Homo sapiens: one gene and its partners. The protein of the gene in region 1 interacts with the protein of each later gene in a pairwise test. Each region holds a gene or a part of one and is shown in the gene's direction. Other genes may lie near its edges.

Region 1 (7,588 bases):
AAGTTGCCCCGCCCAGGAGGCTCCTGGGAAAGTGAGGAGAGGGCCCGGGCCTACTTTCGTCCTGGTGTGGCGCCCCTCAGCCTCCCCTCCTCCCAGTTCCCGCGCCTCCGCAGGGCGCCTCGGCCTGGCCTCCAGGCAAAGTTCGCGCCCCCTGTTCCTGGGGTGTCGGCCGCGCGGGCCGTTTCCCTTCATTACTCCCGGGCCCCTGAATCCGAACGCTTTCCCAGAAGCGCGCAAATCCGCTTGCTTTCCCCGCGGCTGGGCTTTGTTCAGGGACAGCAAAGGAGGAGGCGGGAGGCTGGTGAGGTTTTCTGGAAAAGGGGCTTGTCCCGAGGAGGAAGTGCCCCAGATCCCTGAGAGCCAACGCTCTGGGGAGAAGAAACTTTCCTTCTCCCTTGAATGTTGCTCAGATTACCTAAAATTATTTTTTCAGCCCTTGTGTTCTAAAGTCGCAGGGTAAAGGTTATCTTAAGACTTAACATCAGCGCTGCTCATTTGTACGTTGGTGGAGACGTGCCTTTTTTCCTTTGCACTTAAGGTGGACAGGGTCTGCGACGCTCCCTTCCAGGACGGTGTGGGGAAGCGGCCGACGTCCCCAGCCGGACTCACGCCCTCCTACTACTGGGCGTCGGCTCCGCCGCGGGCGCTCCCGACAGGGAGCTGGAGTCGGACGAGCGGCTGCCCCCAGGGCCTCCAGGAACCGCGGCCCAGCGGGGAGCGCCCCAGGCTAGCGCTTTTCCAGTTCCCTTCGAAAGCGCGGGGCTGAGGTCGCGGCGCTGGGCCCTCGGATGAAGCCGTGCTGTAGCTACACCTGAACCCCGCGAAAGGCTGGCGCGGTCGTGTATCCAGGCTGGGTCTGAGGAATCCGCAAGCGGGAGAGCGCTAACTCCTAGGCGTGAGCCGCTGCTGGCTTCGAGAGTTCGAGAACATGAAGGACCTGGCTTCTCCCGCCCGGTCGGCTTAGGGCCAGCGAGGTCACAGGCCGTTCTGCTCTCCCTGTTTGTCCCCAAAGGCCTCGGCACGTGGGGATCTGGAGCAGGCCTCAGGCTGCGACCCGTCTCTTCCCCTACCAAAATTATGTGGGAACAGCGGTCCAGGACCTTCCCCTGTTCAGCGGTATCCCCGGGCCGGTGACCCCGGGGTTCAGTCGTCTCCCCGACCCCAAGCGGCCTCTGCTTTCCACCCCTCGCCCCGGAGGGCGGCTTCGGGGATCTCATGGGGGGTTTGCATGAGTCTGTCCCCAGCCAACTGAGGGAGAACCAAGACATTATTGCCATCTAAAGAAATTGATTGCTGGATGCCCCACTGCCTGGCTGGACATTCCCCCAACTCCTTTCAATTTGAAGCGGGCCGAAGAGCGAGGTCGAGAAGCTGACCAGGTGAGAGCTGAGTAGTTCACGCACAGGAAGAGGGGACAAGTTTTTCTGTTTTCACAGGGGTTCCTCACGCTCAGGCTTCCAGCGTCTGCCTGCACTGACATCATCGTGGTCGCGATGAAAACAGTGAAATAGGAACCCTGACCTCCCCTTCCATGAGAATCCAGCAGAGAATTTGCTGATGTGTTATACATCCGGGACAATCGGAAACTGCCGTTTTGATTGAGTATTAGTTGGGATGAGGAGCACATACCAGGACTCCCAGATCTGGAGTCCTCACTTTCTCAGCAAGGGCACCTGCATCCTGAGCTTTTACATGTACACACACCCAGCGATTGTGTGTGCCGAGAAAGACCCACATACGCACATTGTTTTTTCCTCTTCCACGATTATCTGCCAGAATTCTACTCAGTTAATTGCGGTTTGAGAACACACCATCCACAGGAGAGCACCAATGGATCTAGTCTAGTGAGGTTACATTTACTTGTAATCCTCCCCCTTCCCTTTCCCATTTCTTTGATGATTTTTCCCATAAGTGTGTAAGCTACTGGGACTTAGTAGAAGCAGGCCGCTCCTCCTAAATGTGATTTGGACCATATGCTTTCTACATTCATTCCCGCTTCGGCTTTTCTTCTCTGCACTAACTGCTAACACGTTATAGTCACCTTGAAATTTCCTCTGCTATTTTCCAATTAAAAGCTTAATAGCCCTGGAAACGGAGTTCATGTGGTGAAGTTTACCACAGCCCCTTGTTCTGAAAGGCTTTCTGCTGGGATCCCATTATGTGCTTGAATAAACCCTTTCTGCAAACAGAAATGGGACTCGGGGTTGTCAGGTGTTGGGTTACAATAGACTTTGAGGCAGGGGACATTTTACCAACATAAATACAAACCTGTCCCTATAGGGAGATGTTGTCAAATACTGGGATATGGAAAACATTCCCATCAAATATGAGAAAAGGATTACTGCACTATATCAAATGAGTATTTAGATCTCAGCCCCCGATGTGCACCGGAGTGAAACGGGCCCCCGGGACCAAATGCCAGACTGTTTGAGTGGCAACGAGATAGGGTGGCTAGGTGACCGACGGGGGAAAAGGGGTCGCCTTGGTAGTGAAAGTGCCCCCACAAACCTGGTGCAGAGCTCTTCTGCTTTCCTTTTAAAAATTTATTCATACTCAAGTTCTTTATACTTCCTCGTTTCACTGTTTGAAGAAAATCGGAAGAAATTTGGTTTTGAAAAAAGTCGTTGGTCCCCACGTTTCCAAGAGATCCGGAGGTTTCAGCGCAATAGTTTTCAGTTAAGGTGTCATTTGAGGCCCTCTATATCGCAGCACGTTAAATGACTCGCGTCCAGCTCCCCATTTCCTAGCCTCGGGCCTACAGGGCTGGGGGCGACCTCTGCCTCCCGTCCCCAGAGCTTACAAAATTCCTTCCAGTTGTATTTTAGGGCTTGTTTTCCTAGAGAAGGTTGAGACTAGAGGAAGGATTAAAGTGGTGGGGGAAGGGGCAAGACCGAGGGGTCCCTACCCCACGCGGCTTTGGAGGATGGCCTCCCAGGGTTAGCACTCGAATGCTAGAGCTTCTTGTCCACACTCTACCAGGTCAGTGTCCCGCGATCCCCACCTCCCGGACGCGTATGAAACGGGAACAGCTAAGGGCTTCAAGGGAAACACACAACTGGGGTTCGGTTTTCAACCCTCCTCTCCGCAAATCAGCCTTCTGGGCAGAGGGTTGGCTGCTAGAACGCCTGGAGGTGCTTCCCTTGAATTCATGGCAAACACCAGAGGAAAGTTTTCAGGTTGCTTGCTTACTTCCAGGGCAGTACAGAGAAAAGCGGCCTCCCCGAGGGGACAAGGGCCTCTGTGCCCATGAGGGGTCGGACATTGCAGCGGACTTGCCTACGCTCTCATCTAGCATTTGATTCCCCACCAGGAGATGGGCTTGGTGCACGCTCTCAGAAGCGCATCCACCGAAGGCTCTGGAACTGCCCCGCTTCGCATAGAGCTATTGTGCTGCCCTGCAGTGTATCCACTTGTTTTGTTTGTTTGTTTGTTTTTTGGTTTTTGCTTGTTTGCTGATGGGCAGTGGGGAGGTGCGAGGGTGGAGGGCCTTCTTTGTGCATATATAGCGATAGTCTGCACTAGGCCAAGCCCGCTACTCCTGGGAGAATGGGAACACGCAAATAATCTAAACAAAGTTTTCTGCTGTCATCTTGTGAAGGACCCTCTCCCCCAAGACATCTATGACTGGGGTCTATGGGTTAAGGAGGTGAAAAAGTGGCCCCATCCCATATCCATAACTGAATCACAGAATCCGTGGGGATTTGAACTGAGTGGCTGGCGCAAGACCTCCGTTTGCTTCCAGTAGCTGCTGGGAGCGAGGGAAGAGGATATCGGTAACTTTGGGGGCGCCAATGTGGCTTCTGTGTCTGCCCCTTGAAAGTTTATACCCGGCGCTTAACAAATCCTTTACAGGAGCACGTACGTCCCTGACCTTTCAGGATACTGTTTTATATTAAAACATGGACAGGAGGGTAGAAAAGTAAAATTCGCCTGCAAAATGGCTTGTCATCCTTGGGCCGGCAGATCTCCAAAACCATTTTCTTCTAAAGCAACAAAAGAGAAAAAAATACGTTCTAAAAGGAAATTACGAAAAGAGCCTAACTTTCCTAAACCAACATCACTTCACTCCCCTATCCTAAACTCCACCCAGGTCCGGGGTGCAACCGCAACACTCCCGTAGGTTCGAGTTCTCCCGGAGCTGAGCTTCTGCGGCCAAATGTCGGGATAAAAGCGGCCTTGGGCTCGGAAAAACGCGGCCAGATCTGGACTGGAGGGAGGAGAAGAGAGAGAAGCGGAGCGGCCACCTCACTCGCTTACAGGCACCCCCACCCTCACTCCCGCTGGTCCTCCCCTTCTCCGCCCCGCGAGCACCGCCGCGTTCTGGAGCGCCGCAGTCTCCAGCCGCGGGCTGGGGTAGCGGAGAGGGCTTGGAGGAGGGGGCCGCGAGCGCCCCCGCGAGAGTGGCCTGGCTGCAGGTGGCAAGGAAGGTGAAGTGCAGGCACCCGAGGGGCGCAAAGGAGGAGGAAGGCGTGGGGCGGGGAGTGCAAGGAGACAGGGACCCCAGGGGCGGGGGTGGCGGTGGGAAGGAGGAGGGGTTGGGGGAGGGCGGCGGAGGTGTTGGGTCCGGCCGGCTCACGAGGGAGCTGCAGAAGAGCTGGCTCAGACCTTAATCAGAGCTGTCGCCGGCTCCTTGCAGCCGCCGCAGCGCCTCCGCGAAGGAGGACGTGCCGACCCGGCTGCGCGCCCAAGGCAGAGGCCCGCGTCGGCGTTGGCTGGGCGTGAGCTGGGAGGCCGAGCTGTGAGCGCGAAGGGAGCTGGAGAGACGACTGCGGCACCTCCGGCCGCCCCGGAGCACACACGACCACCGGGGCTGCGGGACCAAGGGCCGCGTCGCCCGGAGGCCGCCCCTGAGCGGGCCTCGCAGCCCCGCCGTCCAGCGCTCCCTGGCCCTCTCCCGCAGCCAGGCTGCCAACTCATTCGGGAGCCCGGGGCATGAACGGCTACGGCTCCCCCTACCTGTACATGGGCGGCCCGGTGTCGCAGCCGCCACGGGCGCCCCTGCAGCGCACGCCCAAGTGCGCGCGCTGCCGCAACCATGGCGTCCTGTCCTGGCTCAAGGGCCACAAGCGTTACTGCCGCTTCAAGGACTGCACCTGCGAGAAGTGCATCCTCATCATCGAGCGGCAGCGGGTCATGGCTGCGCAGGTGGCGCTGCGCCGGCAGCAGGCCAACGAGAGCTTGGAGAGCCTCATCCCCGACTCGCTGCGCGCTCTGCCAGGGCCCCCGCCGCCGGGGGACGCCGTCGCCGCCCCGCAGCCGCCGCCAGCCTCTCAGCCGTCGCAGCCGCAGCCGCCGCGCCCTGCTGCCGAGTTGGCCGCGGCCGCCGCGCTGCGTTGGACTGCCGAGCCGCAGCCCGGGGCTCTGCAGGCGCAGCTCGCCAAGCCAGGTAAGAGCGTCTGAGGTGCGGGAGTTTGGCCGGGCGCGGGGGCAACTTCGGAGTGCCAGCTGCAGCTCCACTTGGGAGGACTGGAGGCAAAGTTTTGGGACGTGGGCCTGTCGGGGCTTTCCTTCCTACTCTCCGCCAGGCCGGGGCTTCCTCTCCCGGGAGAAGCCGGCTGAGTCTGGACCCAGCGCGAGTGGCACTCGCGCCCGCAGGGAAGGCGCCTCCGGGCAGCCAAACGACGGGACTGTGCGTCAGTATCGCCAGGTGCCTTCCCAGGTTGAAGGGTTCGGAACGTGTCAGATTGAGCAGGGAGACAACGGAGTTGAGACAGGACAAAATTAAAACCCACGTGCGCACACTCACTACGGTGGGGTCGGATTTTCCTGGCTGCAGGCTTTAGAGGTCCTTGCCATTTGGGGGTTGGAATGGGTAGGTAGGTGTAGGGAAGGAGCCAAGGCCAACACTCGGCTGAGTCGAGCTGGCTGTGCTTCTCGGCCGGCCCGGCCCTGCCCAGGGCCCAGGAAAATTTGAGTGAGGACAAGTATCCAACTCTCAGAACCCTGGCCTTTCTAGCTTTGCTCCGTGGCCTCCAGACTCTTGTAACTGGTGAAATAAGTTCCATTTAGCAATGATAGTAAAAGGGTCCGGAAAGGCTTGTGAGCTGATAGCGGGAAAAGAATCTGATGCGCCCAGAATTCACTCCTTTGCAGAACCTCCTAGATCCTTTAACACTGTTCCCCAGGCTGCCCTCAGCTGTCTTCGTGGTTTAAAGGAATACAAAAAATCTGATCCCCCACCACCCATCCGTTTCCATCCAGGCCTCCTGAGCTTGGCAGGCCTGAGTTGAGTCTCTTAGTCTCTCTCTTCCTGGGGAATTTCTAGCTTGCGGTTCTGCCCAGCTCAAGAGCTCTTTTGATGGCTCTTGGAATTCAGTGGATATGTGTTTGGTGTTTCTCCTTAACTGGGGCAAATGTGCAAAGGAACACAGCCCACCTTCTCCCGGAAGGGGGCATGCTGGAATTAGGAGTGGGAAGGTCCAGAGCCCTCCTGTAAGTAGAACTGTGGCAAAACTGGTACCTACACTGACCTGCCAACTCCCTAAAGACGGTACCCCTAGCTTCGGAGAAAGGCTTTCAGGAGCCCAGGACTGCTTTGTCTGGATCCTGTGGAGCTGAGGAAGTGAGGCGGACTCACCTGTTTCATGGTGAGTCAACGGGTGACTGGCAGGTGGAGTTCTGCTGCCCTGTCTTTCCGCCATGCTTTCCAGGCCTGAAGCTCTGAGAACAGCCTGTGTGACAGTAGAGCTGGGAATTTTAAAGCCTGAAGAGAGTTTGCCGAACTTGGATTTTGTGGATATTTAATCCAAGTTAGCATATAAACGTTTCTCAGAAATGATCGCCAGTTGTCTCTCTTTTGTCTGTCTCATCTTTTTATATTTATGGATTTGTCACAGACGAAGAGGAGGGAGGAGAAAAAGGTTTTATTATTTTTCTCCCATAGGTTTGAACAAATAACAAGGAAGAGTTTGGTCTCAGCTCTAGAATTGGATTTGTACCAATATATTTTCTTAATTTTTTTCCATTTCCAGCTTCTCTGGTTCCGTTTCCCCCAGGACTAGGGCAGAGGCCTGAGTTAACATCAGAGGTTAACTCAGCAGCACTCCTGTGATCGGGCATTGGGTTCTGTGGTTTTTATCCAAGGAGATGCCTTTCACATCCTGTGTTCTTCAGAGTATTCTTTGGGATAGCTAAAGTTCATGATTTCTAAAGAGTCACAAAACTAAAAACACAACCCCAGGAGGAGGAGGAGTGAGGGCAGGCAGGAAGGCAGAGTAGGCAGCGGCAGCAGGATACGTGCTTTGGGAGAATAGAAAAAGGAAACGGATCTCAACTGGACAAAGCAGAGCTGTGCTGTTTTACTCCTACTTAGCACTCAGGGATAGCCTGAGCCTTCCGAATTGAAAACAAGTAATTGCAAAGGAGAATAGGATTTATCACAAGGCGAGGTCCAAGTGAGGACTTTGGGGGACCGAGGCATCAGGGACCAAGGGCTCAGTTTCCAGCTGGTCACCCCCACCCCCCCATACCTTGTACATTGATGTACACAACTTTTGTTTTCTTCTTTCACTTGCTGTGACCCCATAATTCCCATTTTTTTAAAAAAAAGCAAATCACCACTCTGATGGGGAGTGGGGAGAAAGGTAGG
Region 2 (7,331 bases), on another chromosome or scaffold:
GAGAATCCCTTGAGCCTAGGAGTTCAAGGTTATAGTGAGCTATGGTCTTTCCATTGTACTCCAGCCTGGGCAAGAGCCTGTCTCAAAAATAAATAAGTAATATTTAGTAAGTCTAACCCCATTTGAGGCTTGCAGAAGTTACTGGACTTGCCATAAAGTACCCAGTTAATAACAGAGCTGGCCCTGTTCAGTGCTTTACTATGTTATGCTGCATTGCCATTCAAAATGACTTGTCTCCTAAAGGAATTTTCTCATCAGAATTATTTCTATTGACAGTATCCCCTTTTTAGAAAATAACTAGCATCTTGAGTAAGAAAGCTACCCAGTCTTTGAATTCGAGTTCATCCATCCATTCACCACGCATTCCTCTACACATATTAACTGATAATCTATTTGGGATACTACATGTAGAGGATTCGAGGTTAAGACTCACATTTCCCCTATTCTCACAGAGCTTACAGTCTAGGAGAAGAAGCAATTAAAATAATTTGCAATGCAGAGAGCCAAAGCTGCTTAGGGAAGGCTTCTCAGAGTCAGTTCCTGCAAAGTAGAGACCTAAAGGATTGGGGAGAATTAGCTAAGTAAAATGATGAGGGAAGGGAGGTGATAAAATGAGATGAAATACTGTGCAAACTGTGTAACTGCAGACTTGTAAGACTGTTATTAAACAGACATCCCTCCAGAGCTCTCCAATCTCTGTCCCAGGTCTTCTTCCAGCAAAGTCTCTATCTCTGCTCCTTTGGCAGAATAAGCCCCCTTTTAACCTGTGTAACTCTTGTTTTATAGATGGTTATTTTGTTGTTATTAGTATATTCTTGGGTTTGAGTTGGAGACAAGGGCCTATCTCTAATCAGGAGTGACCTGATTTTTATGTCAATTACCTGGGAAGAGATCATCAAACCAGATCCTGGGACTTAAGAGAGGAATGTAAGGGGATTGCAGAATGGGATTTTGTTTCCCTTGGTCTTGATCCTGAAGGATAAATGATGCATGTTAGTTAGGCAAGGCGTGGTTATAATAGTGTTTTTCAAATTTTTTTTGATTGAAATCCATAGTATGAAATACATTTAACGTTGCAACCCAGAATACACACATGTGGCTGAAAGTTTCCCCTAATTTGTGTTGGGAAAAAAATACCCTTATTACATGTGATACAATCTGATATTTTGTATTTTGGATTCTGATTAGTGTTTTTCTGAGTAGCTACCCTTTAACCGATCACAAAATCAACTTACTGGGTCATGATGACCACCTTAAAAAATCAAATAAAAGCAGTCATGCAAAGATGGGATGGAAAACAGTGAAGAAGATACCCATACACTGTGGTCAGTATTTTAGAGCTAAGTCCATATTTTGGACTTCCTAAGTCCCTCTGTTTCTTGCATAATTTGTGCCTGGTTGTATGAAACTTGAGACAGATTAGTGGTTATGGCTGTGGGTTCTGAAGTATGAAGTCTGGAATCTTGACTGTGTTACTCAGCAGCTGTGTGACATGGGCACTTAACCTACTTACCTTGTGTTTAAAATGGGGATAGTAACAGTTCTTATCTAGTTGCAAGAATTCAAGGAAATAATGCAATGCTTGGCACAGAATCAATACTCAGGAAATATTAGGAATTATATTTCTTTCACTTTTATTTTCCCCATACATTAAGTACTCTGTTTTGTCTTAATTCAGCTTTTCTTAGCTTGCTAAGCAGGACCAAGGGAAGAGATGTGTGTATTGACATAGAGGGCTCTGGAAGCCAGATTGCTATGGGCAGCAGATATCAAAGAGAAAGAATCACAAGGGGGAACTGAAAGCCCAAGGGCCATAGTGGAGGGCCTCAGTGCTTCCAGTGCTAAACCTCCAAGGTCCAGGGTTTTATTTTCTTTAAAAAAGCAGATCCTCTCTTTAATAACAACACTTTTGGCCCTAGCTTCTCACTTCCTGTCTAGGTCAAATTCCAGTTTGTTACAGAAAGTTGACTGAACGTGAGTGGTATTTTCCCACAAATTTCTACTTGACATTCCTTGAGACTGTGATCCTTGCTTGGGTACCTTTACTGTTGGCCATCTTTTGTTCACTGCGTTTACTTTTTTCCTGCATCTAGCAAAACAACGACTTTTTTTTTTGAATACCTGAGATTTCAAGAGAAAGTATACTGAACAATACGATGAGAAGACTATATTCTACAATGCCATCTTTCAGAGGCAAAAGTATCTATAGTAAAAACATTTGATACATTTGGTGTATGCTTCTTACCCATTTCCACTCCAAAAAATAACAGATGACATGTACCTGTGAAACACTCCCATAAGGTATACCTAGAAACTCACTTAAAAAAATTACGATTTTTAGAAATGATATATATAAAACATTTTATAAGCATGTAAACTATTAACAATTTAAAGGTTTCTTAAAATTGTTTTGCAAGGAAAAACATAAATATCACTGTTTTAAAAATATGCAGGACTTTAAAAAATGTTAATTTTTCTATACCTCTGCTCTACAGAAAAACCTTATTGTTACAATTATGGTACAGCCTTTACAAATTTCTTTTACATCATTTGATAATAACTAATATTCAGATAAAATATACAAATATTTTTTCAAATCAGAACATTTAAAAACACTGACGTAGATTTTTCTGGAATAATAAACGTTTTTATTTTTAACCAGCTCAGATCTCGAATTAAAGCCTAATATTCCCATCATCACTCTTTCCTGTAAAAATAAGACAGCACTTTCAATGAGAGTGGAAATAAACCATTGTTTCAGGTTTTACTTACAACTGGAGCTGCCTTGCAAAATCCCTGCCCTGGCCATCTGCCGTGGTTCCAAATAAGTTTGTAAAAGTGAATCTTGCCATTTTCAATACTTCCTCCTTTGGGTCTATTTATTCCGAAGTCTGTTTTTCTCATTCTTTTAATTTTTTTCCCCCCAAGACGGATTTGTCTGAGACACTTTTTTGCCATAACATTTGTTTTTTCTGCTTACGAGAGTGTAAGAATTCCACAAGCCAAATGTTAATATTTTGTTGTCAGTTCTTTAAGCCTTCATTTTTTCCGTCTATCGAGCCCTTTTTTTTAACCAGAACTCATTGCTTCTGAGAGTATAAAAGAGCAAAGAGGCCGGGCGCGGCGGCTCACACCTGTAATCCCAGCACCTTGAGAGGCCGAGGCGGGCGGATCACGAGGTCAAGAGATGGAGACCATCCTGGCCAACATGGTGAAACCCTGTCTCTACTAAAACATAAAAATTAGCCGGCTGTGGTGGCGCGCGCCTGTAATCCCAGCTACTCAGGAGGCTGAGGCAAGAAAATCGTTTGAACCCGGGAGGCAGGGGGTACTGTGAGTTGAGATCGCGCCACTGCACTCCAGCCTGGGAGACAGAGAAACACTCTGTCTCAAAAAAAAAAAAAAAAAAAAGTGGGGAGCAGAGAGCCGGACTTGGACACGGGAAGGTATCGTGACATGAGTGGGTCGGGGGCTGGAAAGTTTGCCCAGGCGAAGAAGTGAACATGTTTATCCGGATCACCGTTTGTTAAATGAACAGCAACCCATAGGTAGCTTCACCGAGCCGAAACGGGAAAGGCGGCAGGCAAGGGAGAAGCTAAAATCTGCAAGAAACGGGCTGGGCTGGAGGCGGCGCCAGGGCAAGAAGGGCAGGTGGGGGCCCGCGGGAGCCGGGAGCCAGGGGCGGGAGCCGGAAGGGCGGGACCCAGGGGCAAGGCCTAAGTGGGCGTGGGAGGGGCATAGTCAAGAGATGGGCGGGGACTGCTCGGGGTCTGGGCGGAGTCTAGCGGGAGCCGCGTCGAGCCGGGGAGGAGCGAGGGACCCTGGGAGAGCTGTCTTTTCAGGGCTGAGGACCCGCCAGCACCTGATGGAGAGCAAATGGCTGTTTCCACACGTGGAGAACTTTTAACGAACACGTGAGGAAGGCGGGCAATGTCTGTGGAAAAACTACCTCACAACCCAGGCGTCTTACTCCAGCCCCCAGGGCGACAGCTTGTTTACAGTATTTCTGAAGGTCTCCGTCCCCTTTTGTCGGCCCCTCCTCCTCCTCTAACCCCGACTTCAGGCTTTGAGTGAGGCTTTGGTAGAGCAGTCGCCGCCGCAGGCGCCCCGGTCGGCGAAGCCCACAGGCATGCGGGCGCAGAGGCCGTCTGCGCCTGCGCGGGGTGTCTGCTACGGGGAGGTGCGTGGAGCTCGAGGGCGTGGAGCTCGGGGGCGTGTCTCCCGCCGCGGCGCCGGGGCGGGGCGAGGGCGGAGCCTGGGGGCCCAGCGGCCCGCGCCCCGTGGCTTGACCTCCCCGACTGCTGGGCCCGTGACGTCACCCCGCTGTGACGCGCACGCTGTAGGAAAACTGTAAGTTTACGAGGATTCCTGCAGCTCCTAGGGCTTGCGGGGCCCGCTGGCAGCTGGCAGTCCCGGCGGTGGTGGTGGCTCTGGGGGCGTCAGTTCCTTGGGGAGTCGCCGATTGTGGCGAAGGGACAGGTGTCTGCTCAGAGTGGCAGCGCGCCCTGCTGGGCGGTAGGGACCTGGGGTGCGGGAGGCGAGGCCGCGCCCCGTGGGGCCGGGCCAGCACCTTTTCCCCTGGGGCGGGGCGCGTCTCCGAGCCTGGGAGCGAGGCCTTAGAAGGGGCGGAAAGTCCAAATGGAGAGTCCCTTTTTTTCTTCCGTGATAAAGGGACTTAGATTCCTTTTCTTCCCCCTCTCAGCCTTGGAGTTTGACATGTTAAGTAGGGGATGGAAGCTTCCTCTCAGAGAATAGGAATCCTATGTCCTGGCCGTTGGGATCCCACAAGTGACCAAGTCATCGTGGACACATTTATAAGATAACCAGTTGCTGCCTCAGTTTTCTTTTTTGTGTAAAAGGGAGGTACAGCAGCCTCTGGCCTCCCTAATGGTTGTTCCCACAGCACTAGGAACACGTGAGATAACACAAGTGTGTAAATTTGCTAGGAGAAAGCTTATACACAGACACTTGGTTATTCTGAGGAATGTGGTAGCCACTGGCTATTTGACCAGGAATCTTGTAGAAGGGGAACTTTTTCACTGTTTTGCCTCCCCCCGACAACCTTCCCTCCATCTGATTCTATACCACACTGGAGCCTGTTGGGTGATCGAACTGTTGTCACTAAACTTGATAGAATGGGGATCCCAAGAAATAACAGGTATCGTTAGCACGGTACTCTTGGCAATTACAATGCCCCCGTTGTCTGGGTTTTGCAGAGGAAGCTTTCAGTGTGCTGGAACTAGCACATTATAGACAACACAGACTCACTGAGTTTTAAGGATTGCTGTATCGATTTGGAATATCCAATCATCGTATCTGACTGCTTGAATATTTTGGTCAAGGGGTACTACATTATCGATTAGTTATTACTAGACTATAATGCCTCTCAAACTCCGGGACTAGTAGTCTTCAGGAACTTTGAAGGGAAGAATACTGTGCACACTTCAGGGTGTATTTATACAGGAGCTCGAGAGTTCACATTTCTGTAAATTCATTTCAGGAGTGTGATATCTTTTCATCCAGGTAGGAAGAGCCTTTGAATCAGAAAGCAGGGCTTCTAATTTTTGTTCTATTCGTTAACTAGCTTCGTGTCCAAGGACAAGTCACGCAAACTTGGAACTTTGTTTTTCTTATCTAAAATGAGAGCCGATGGTTTATCTGTTTGTTGGTTTTTCCAGGATCAAATGAGATCACGAGAGTGCAAATGAAAGGCTAAGTGTGCTATTGTTATTAGGAGATTCGCATTGGTCCCCTAGCCTGGATGAGATGTGAGTCAGAAATCTCTGGAAATAGAGCAGCAAAGAAGACAGCCTCCAACCTAGCAGGGCTCATATTGCAGTGGGAAATAGACAACGAACAATACGTGCATAATGTAATTTCAGGTAGTCATAAGTGCAGTGAAGGGAAGGAAGAAAGGAGGACAGTGGGGGAACAGGGAAGGTTGTTTTTGGTGGGATCTGTCAGGAAAAGCCATTCAAAGGCAGGGACACTTGAAGTGTGAGGGAAAGAGCCTGAGGTAAGAACATTTCAGAGAGGAATAATTAATAGCAATGAACACTTAAAAAAAGTAGAGCTTACCATATGTAAGGCACTATTCTGAACACTAAATTAAATTTTTACAAGTCTTTTGATGTAACCTAGTATCTCCCTTTCATAGATGAGGCAACTGACACACAGAAAGGTTAAGAATTTGCCAAAGTTGCACAGCTAAAACGTGGTAGAGACTATTTGAACGTGGGCAGTCTGACTTCAGAGTCCAGGCTCCAGGTGACTGTATTTTCGGCCTCACAGCAGGAACAGCACAGGACAATGCTCTGAGGTGGTCCAGACACAGTGAGAGTGTTTAGAGCACAGCCGGGAACGGGGAAAGTAGTGGCCAATGATGGTCAAGGGCCAGGCAGGCCGTGGGGTCCCTTGTAGGCTGTGGTGAAGTAAAGATGTTGTTCTAACTGTGATGGAAAACCATTGGAAGGTTTGCATCAAGGGACTGGTGTCTGATTTAAGTTTTATTGTATGGAGAATTAACTGTAGATTAGAGTGGGTCGGATGGAGTGAAAATCGGGAGAAAGCTGCTGTGCCCTGCAGGTGAAATGATGGTGGTTTGGGCTGGGGGAGGTTAGTTGTGGAGATGATGGTAGGCGGTAGAATTGGTGATACGTTTTGAAGGTAGAGCTGACGGGAAACGAGCTGATGTGGAATTTGAAGAAAAGGGAGAAGTGATGATTTTTTAGGTTTAGGCTGGAACAACTAGAAGTATAGTGGTGCTGTTTACTGAGGAAAATTACAAATTTAGTTTTGCACAAGTTCTAAATGCCTGTTAGACATAGTCATAACAACAGTGCTAGTAAAAATAGTATTATGTAAGCGTAAACTGAGTCCCAGGCAGGGTTTTAAGTACTTTAACCTATATTAATTCATTTAATCATCATAAGAATTATATGTGCAAGGAACCATTATTGTCCCCATTTTACAGCACGAGAAAATAGAGGCAAAAAGAGGTTATAAGTGACTTGTCTGAAGTCACCCAGCTGGTGAGTGATGTAGCTAGGATTCAAACCTAAGCATTGTGGCTTTGGAGTCCATGCATTGAATCCCTGTAACCACCTCCGAGTGAACATGTTGAGTATGCATGCCTGTGAATATGGAACTCAGGGGAGTGGTCAGGGTTGGAGATACCCATTTATTTTTCTGAAGAGAAAGCATGCTTTTGTTTTTCATCTAAGCTTTGGTTGTCTGTGGGAGAAAGATTATAGGCAGTGGGACTGTGCTAACTGGTCTTTGATTACGACCTGACTGGGTTCATGCAGCCAGTATCTGGTATTCCCCACTGT
Region 3 (7,744 bases), on another chromosome or scaffold:
TGAGATTAAGTCAAATGCCTAAGTTTATAAAGCTAATAGGTGGCACAGCTGGCTAAGTTGACTTCTAGCCCATACTCTACCACACTGTAATGCATCCCTCAGGACAGAGATCACCAAGTGGCCCCTGCCTGGTCCCAGGTGGAAGGACATATTAAGTTAAACTGAAAAGCAGTCCTAAAATACTTGAAATGTAAACTATTACCCAAACATGAGGTGAATCTACAATAAGAAGCAAAAAGTAAATGCAGTGAAAAGCTCACCATTCTACAATCTATCTTCAGGGAGGTATCCTTCTTTCCTACTACTATATTTGATAAATTTCAAACAAAACAAAACATCCTTTCCATTGTGTCAGCTTTTGGACACACACTTTATTGCACTTGATTTTTTTATACATCCATTTCCTAAACAAGATATGTTTATTCATCTTTTTAATCCTCATGGCTCAGCACAGGGCCTGACATACATAGGCATTCAACCAATATTTGATCTCCAAAGCATGACCATTCATGCATCCATAATCCTTTTTCTATAGTATAAAGATGGCTGACATTCAGGCCCCCATGTATATTTTAAGGAATATATAATTCCCAATAAGCTCTTCTTTTTAAAGGTGATTAACAGTTCTAGTGTTCAATTTCAAAATCAAAATGACATCATATCAGGTGTCATTAAAAGACAAATGCCAAACCATATTTGCCTACACACCACTGCCTTTTCCCTTTCTTTCATTTTATCTGTCCATATGAAAGCCATGGTTTTTTTTGTAGTTTTCACCATCTCTAAGAGCCCTGAACAATTTTTGATCCTATAAGGGCTTTTTACTTCAGTTTCTGTCACCTATAAAAGCTGTGTGTCGAGACTGAAGATTATCCACTATCTTCTCTTCTATCTCTACGCCTTTTTCTATTTCTTCCTCTGATAGCAATAACTTGGTTTCCGAGTCTTTGGTTACAATAAACACAAAGGACTGTCGTGACTCAAGGATATTAGCCACCACCACTTGATGCTGATAAATTTCCAAAGCCTTCCGAGCTCGATTAATTACAATGGCGGGGTCAGTCTCCAACTTAAAGGAAATTATAAATGCTTTGGGAGCCCAATCTTTAACCAAAGGAGAAAGCAGTTTTGGCACCATCTTCATTGTTATCTGTATTGGAAAAAGAAAAGCTTAATAAGCAAACAATGGTCATTACCTACCAGGTCAATCTCATGGGAAACTAAGGAATTAAATTTAAGTGGGATTTCTCAACCATCAAACTTTTCAGTTAAATGTTTAGTTTAAAAAGTCTTAGGGGAACACAGTGGCTTGGCCTGTAATCCCAGCACTTTGGAAGGCCAGGATGGGTGGATCGCTTGAGCCCAGTTCAAGACCAGCCTGGGCAACATGGCAAAACCATGTCTCTACAAAAAAATACAAAAATTAGCCAAGCATGGTGGCACCCACCTGTAGTCCCAGCTACTCAGGAGGCTGAGATGGGAAGATCACTTGAGCCTGGAAGGTTGAGGCTGCAGTGAGCTGTGTTCATGCCACTGCACTTCAGCCTGGGCAACAGAGCGACACCTTGTCTCACAAAAAAAAAAAAAAAAAAAAAAAGCCTTGGCTCTGTAGAGTTCACAGCGATGCCTAAATTCAAGGCTCCATACATATTCTGGGGCAAACCATGCCTTCTGAATAAGCCCTGCCATGCTCTGCCAACCTTACCACCATTAATATTTTCTCAAGCATGTCCCTTTATTTTTGAACCAAACCCTCAAATAAACAGATACAAATAATCTGTTCATACAAATATTTGGCAGAAGCCTAAATAAAGTTGGGTTTTTAAACCTCTCAGCCTAAAATATTTCTTGCATTGGTAGAATGGCTATTAGATTCCATTTTTAAATTGTCACATGTAACACAACTTAGCAGTGAGGAAACTGATTTTATTTTCACTTGACCAAAACTCCTAGTACCTCATCCCCAATCCCTTCTCAGGGTAATGTTCAGTTGCTTTGTTACTTTCAAGATAGAACTAAAAACTGTGGGATAAACTAAAGATCCCAGAGATTAAAAAGCGTGAAATCACTAAGCTAATCATCAGACTTTGCCCTAAAAAAAAGCTGTTAGTGTGATAGGGATCATATACCAGTTTATTTATACTTTATTTTTCTCCTTAGCATTTATCACTACTAAACGAGTTATGTATTTGACTTATTTATTGTCTCCTCTGCAGAGGAAGCAACACAAAGGCAGGGTATGTTTCTTTTCACTGCTTTCATCTCTAAGTCCTACAGCAGTGTAGGACCTCAATAAACTATTCTACAAAGTCGGCAAATGCCCCACAGATAAGAGTTTCTCCTAATAAAATCCTACCTGTATCACCCAATAAATGACTAAGAACTCCTGAAGGTTCCAAAAATCTAAAATCACAACCACACCTACCTTATCCATATTTCTTCCTTAACCTACAATAGCCCCCAACTAATCTACCCACTCCACTTTCTCCTTCTCTACTTCGTCTTTCATACTGATGCCAGAATGTTGTTCTCAAACAAAAACTTTATCTCATTCTCCTACTTATGTGTCCCTTAGCTCCACAAGAAAAAGTCCAAGCTCCTTAAAAAAGGAAAATAAAGTCTTCTACAAAGCAAGCCATCTCTTCAGTCAGCTCTCCAGCCTTACCAAAGCACTTCGGTTCACAGCCCACTGCCCACTTTCAAATTCCTACTGCCATACTCCACCTGGAATGACCTTTCCCACTTCGTACACCCTCTGCTCATTTTGTTTTGATTTTTGGTGTTTTTTTTTTTTTTTGCGACGGAGTATCGCTCTCGTCGCCCGGGCTGGAGTGCAATGGCGAGATCTCAGCTCACTGCAACCTCCGCCTCCTGGTTTCAAGCGATTCTTCTGCCTCAGCCTCCCGAGTAGCTGGGATTACAGGCGCCTGCCACCACGCCCGGCTAATTTTTGTATTTTTTTAGTAGAGACGGGGTTTCACCATGTTGGCCAGGCTGGTCTCGAACTCCTGACCTCAGGCGATCTGCCCTCCTTGGCCTCCCAAAGTGCTGGGATTACAGGCGTGAGCCACCGCGCTCGGTTCTGCTCATCTTTTAAAACCCAGTTCAATTCATCTCCTCCAAGAAGCTTCATCGACTCCCCCAGGATTCACTCGCCCCATGATCTGACTGCACTTTGTACATACCTCCACTAGAGCATTTATCACTCTGTATTGTAATTATGTCTGTGTCCAGCTCCCTCACTAGATTGTGAGGTCCATGAGGGAGGGCGGTGTCTTATTCATCTCTGTATCCCCTGTGCCTAGCGAATACAGATGCAGAAAGGCCATCTCCAGATCAAGAGGAAATTAACCCAAGATTGGTTATATGGGATTAGATCTCTGGAAGAGAAGCGCCCATCACCTGCAGTGGGCCCCCAGATGACTGGATCTTGTGTTCAGGCATTTCAGAGACAGGAACATAGAAATCTGACACAGCCGCAGCCAGGTAAAACATCGCAGAAGGGCCTGCAAAGAGAAACACAAGGTGTTAACAAATCGGCGAGGTACGATATAGGATCAGCTCCTTCTCAACTCGGGTTCCCCAGCTGAGATCCGTGGGTAAGCAGGAGGTAAGGGGATAAGTGGCTGGAAAGAAAGGCTGTGCTTCCAGGCAAAAGGGGTACTCCTAGGGCACGCACCTAGCGGATTGAGTGCCTGGGCCGCAGCCTGCAACAGATGCAAATAGTCCGCCAAAGTGGTGAACTCTACTGCCAGGAAGGTGCCTGCAGCCGCAGCCTCCTGGTAGCTCCTCAGAGCCTCAGCAAAACCCGGAAGTGCATTCTCCTCGGCCTCCAGGCTCAGCAAGCCCGAAAGGGCTGGGCCCGAAGGCCGCAGAGCGGACAGCCAAGTCTGGGGTGGGAAGCGGTGGGCATAGGGGAAGGCAGAGCGAGCGCGATACAAGAACAGGACCCCGTAGCCGGCGGCTAGGAAGGCCTCGGCCGAGGTTGCACCGCGCCGCCCGCTGCTGAAGTTGTCCAGGAAGCGCACCGGCCGCGCTTCCAGTGGGACCTTGGTGCCGCCTGACGTAACCAACACCACCCGCCGGCCCTGCGCGCCCAGCCTGGCCGCGAAGCGAGCCATAACCTCAGCCCAGCGCGCAGCACCGGGAGGCTGGGGGAACTCGGCTACCGGATCCATTTCCGCCATCTGCAGCGCAGCGGCCGGCGCCTGCGCACGTTTCGCGGCCGCCGCGCCACGCCCCTTCTCGCCTACCTGGTGTACGCGCCGCGCCGTACTGAGTGGGCGGTTCACTACCCTTCTTTTGACACTAGGTCCCGATCTCGCCAAGTCTGGAAATGCGTAGTTGTTCTGCCCCAGAGCCCAGCGAAAGTGACACTGCAACGAGGGGGATCCCCGGCTGGGTGGGCATCTGGTAGGGTCACGTTCCCTCACGTTCGTTTCCTAGCCTGGGTGAAGAACTGGCCATGTTTGACCCTTACCGGCCACTGTACGGGCCTTTCTGGACTTGGACTCCTTGGGAGTCGTTTCTCGGCCATTTGACCCGTGGGACTTGTGGGTTTTGTGCTGCTTTTTCTTTCTTTCTTCCCCTTTTCCAACTTCAGCAATACACCCAGATGTTAGTCGAGTCACGTCCCGCCGCCCTCTGCCCTTGAAATGCTGGCAAGTACGCAGCCCCGCGATCGTCACGTGACGCCGGGGTTCAGCGTATCCTTGCTGGGCAACCGTCTTAGAGACCAGCACTGCTGGCTGCACCATGAATGTGATCTACCCACTGGCAGTCCCCAAGGGGCGCAGACTCTGCTGTGAGGTGTGCGAAGCCCCAGCCGAGCGGGTGTGCGCGGCCTGCACAGTCACTTATTACTGGTAGGCCCTGAAACGTGGCACCTGGGCGCTATAACTCCCTCCCTCTCTCCCTTTCCCGGGTCTGGCTTGGGTACCTTGCGTTAGCCGTTGCCCCTGACTCTGCAAGGGACACCTCAAAACGGCTTTAAGACAGGCCCCTAAGACTCCCGTGGCCTCGTCTGTCTCATCTCCCACTTATTCGTCACTCATGTTTTCTGAAGGCGTACTCTGTGTTATGCACTATTTTAGGTGCTAAAGTTACTGGGGCAGCTCGGTAGATCAGTTCCTTCAAAGATCTAACATTCCAATGTGGGAGACAAATCAGTAAAGAAACAGGCCGGGCGCGGTGGCTCACGCCTGTAATCCCAGCACTTCGGGAGGCCGAGGCGGGCGGATCGCCTGAGGTCAGGAGTTCGAGACCAGCCTGGCCAACATGGTGAAACCCTGTCTCTACTAAAAAATACAAAAATTAGGCGGGAGTGGTGCTGGGCGCCTGTAATCCCAGCTACTCGGGAGGCTGAAGCAGAAGAATCGCTTGAACCCGGGAGGCGGAGCTCGCAGTGAGCGGAGATCGCGCCACTGCACTCCAGCTTGGGCAACGAGAGTGAGACGATAGTGAATGGGGCAGTATGTGGAAAGCTTTCCCTGTGGAAGAAACATTTGAGCTGCATTTTGAGAGGGCAGTCAGAACCTGCTGTGTACAGGAGTAGTGAAGAAGGGTAGGGCATTCCCGGCATCCGGGACTGCTAGGGCAAATGGCAAAAGAACAGAGTTTGCTAAGGGCCGAGTGGAGAACGTAGTAGTGGAGGGAGCAGTCAGTGATTTTCAAACTGCAGGCCAGGGCCCTTTAGCAGTTTATGAATAAGTCACAATCACCATTTAGAGAAAACAACAACAACAAAAAAGAGCACAGAATGAGTAGAAAGTATCAGGTTAATCCTACCTGAATTGTTTCTTAAAACTTTTGTCTTAGTGTTTTATGTGGACATGTGTGTGTGTACAGGAAAAATGTATTTCTTACTATAGGTTGAGTCAAAATTAGCCGGATGTGGTGGCGTGCACCTGTAATCCTAGCTACTCGGGAGGCTGAAGCAGGAGAATCGTTTGAACCCGGGAGGCGGAGGTTGCAGTGAGCCGAGATCGCTCCATTGCACTCCAGCTTGGGCAACAAGAGTGAAACTGTGTCTCAAAAAAAAAAAAAAAAGTTGGAACATCATTGTGATAGGTAGTAGAAGTTTAAACCAAGAAGATAAAGGTTAGGGCTAGACAGTGACATGAGATCAAGGGTTTGGAATTTATCTCCTGGGAAACCATGAATGGTTTTGAGCTGACATGCTCTCATTTGTGTTAAGGAAAGAGGATGGGCTGCAGTGTGGCAGATACAGAGGAAGGTAGACACTGACGGCTGCATAACAGATCAAGAAGCTGTTGCAGTACCTTCTCATACTGGCCTAGGTGTCCTTCCTCAGTGCTCTCAAAGCACTGAGTATGTCCCCTATCCTAACACTTAGGACATGGACTGAAATCATTTATTTATTTCTTTCATTAGGCTGTATGCCCCACAAGGGCAGGGATGGTATCTGTGTTTTCATTGCTATCTCCTCTTTGGTGGCTTCCTTGCCTTTAGAATATAATTAAGAATTTGTAACAGAAAATACAAGGCCCTGGTTATTTCTCTACCTTCACTTCCCACCACACTCACCCCATTTTTTCTTTGCTGTAGTTATAGAGAACTGAAGTTCTAATTTGCTAAGCCCTTTCTTCCCTCAGTTTCTTTTCCCAGTCTGTTCTCTCTGCTAGGAACCTCCCCTTCAACTACAAGCCTTCCTGGCTCCCTTTCATCCTTCAGTTCTCAGTTTAAATGTCATTTCTTCAAAGAGGTCTAAACCCAGTCTCAACTCCCCGTCATACTTTTCTCTCTCACAGTACCATTTTTCTTTGCTTTTTCTGTACTTTTATATTATTGTGTTTGCTTGTCTGATGTCTATGTCTTTTACTAGACCCAGTGGCCACACATACCAGACACTCAATGAACATCTGTTGAATAAAACTAAATGGATAATAAACCCATTAACTTGGGCAAGGAACACGGGGAAAAGATGACGGGCATCAGATTTGGTTGTAGGCATAGAGTTTAAGAGGCCTTTGGGTCACCCCCAGAGAGATGGCCAGTAAACCGCCGTGGGTAAAACCTGCCACTCAGGCTTGGGAAAGATTCAATCCTTTTGCTTGGTGTGAGCACTGACTTTTTCCTTAAAACACCCCTGTCCTCTGTATCCCTCCAGCCGGAAGTAATTCCTTCTTCCTCTGAACTAACTTTACAGTACTCTGTATCTCTCAGATGACTCATATTTCTCTTCATTTTAATTGTTGGTGAGTGTGTTATTTCAATTCTGTTATGCTCCATTAATGCTAGATACTATGTCAAATGTGTACAGAGGGACTGTCAAGTATGCTAACTTTTGATCTATGTCCGACCTGTCATTGTATGCCCCATAGTCTCTAGCAAAGTGTCTTGAAATAGTTGGCACTTGTGCTTTTATCCCTTGGGCCAAAAAATAAAAATGTGAAAAAAAAGACATAGTTGGCACTAATATCTGATAAATGCATGTATAAATTATCATCTTCTATGCCCTTATCTTCGATTTTTTTTCTTTTACTTGCTTTTAATTCTCTTTAAGACCTTCTCCTTTTGTTTTTTTGCTTCCTTTTCTCCAGATTTCTATGTCTTTGGGTCTTGCAGATTTCAAGATTTTTTGATAAAACAAAACTGAGGTTGTTGTTCTATAGGTTTTGATGGTCGAATGTAAAGCATCTAGTACCCTTCCTGGAACCATGTTGGCACACAGTAAATGTTCCTTTTCATCATCCCAAGTTTAAGGAACAAGAAAGTCAGTCTG

The links.
Region 2: the proteins of DMRT3 (region 1) and ZNF438 interact in binary tests that used the Homo sapiens proteins (3 or more experiments, as listed by UniProt).
Region 3: the proteins of DMRT3 (region 1) and ZMYND12 interact in binary tests that used the Homo sapiens proteins (3 or more experiments, as listed by UniProt).

What each region holds. Positions count from the first base shown.
Region 1 is NC_000009.12:972,070-979,657, forward strand, and holds the start of DMRT3 (doublesex- and mab-3-related transcription factor 3), read left to right. Parts: upstream 1-4,585; 5' UTR 4,586-4,932; coding exon 4,933-5,386; intron 5,387-7,588. UniProt on the Homo sapiens protein: Probable transcription factor that plays a role in configuring the spinal circuits controlling stride in vertebrates.
Region 2 is NC_000010.11:31,028,852-31,036,182, reverse strand, and holds the start of ZNF438 (zinc finger protein 438), read left to right. Parts: upstream 1-4,317; 5' UTR 4,318-4,350; intron 4,351-7,331. UniProt on the Homo sapiens protein: Isoform 1 acts as a transcriptional repressor.
Region 3 is NC_000001.11:42,453,009-42,460,752, reverse strand, and holds the start of ZMYND12 (zinc finger MYND domain-containing protein 12), read left to right. Parts: upstream 1-4,730; 5' UTR 4,731-4,755; coding exon 4,756-4,865; intron 4,866-7,744. Other genes in the region: PPCS (phosphopantothenate--cysteine ligase), read right to left, coding at 827-1,150, 3,403-3,506, 3,680-4,187. UniProt on the Homo sapiens protein: Required for sperm flagellum function and male fertility.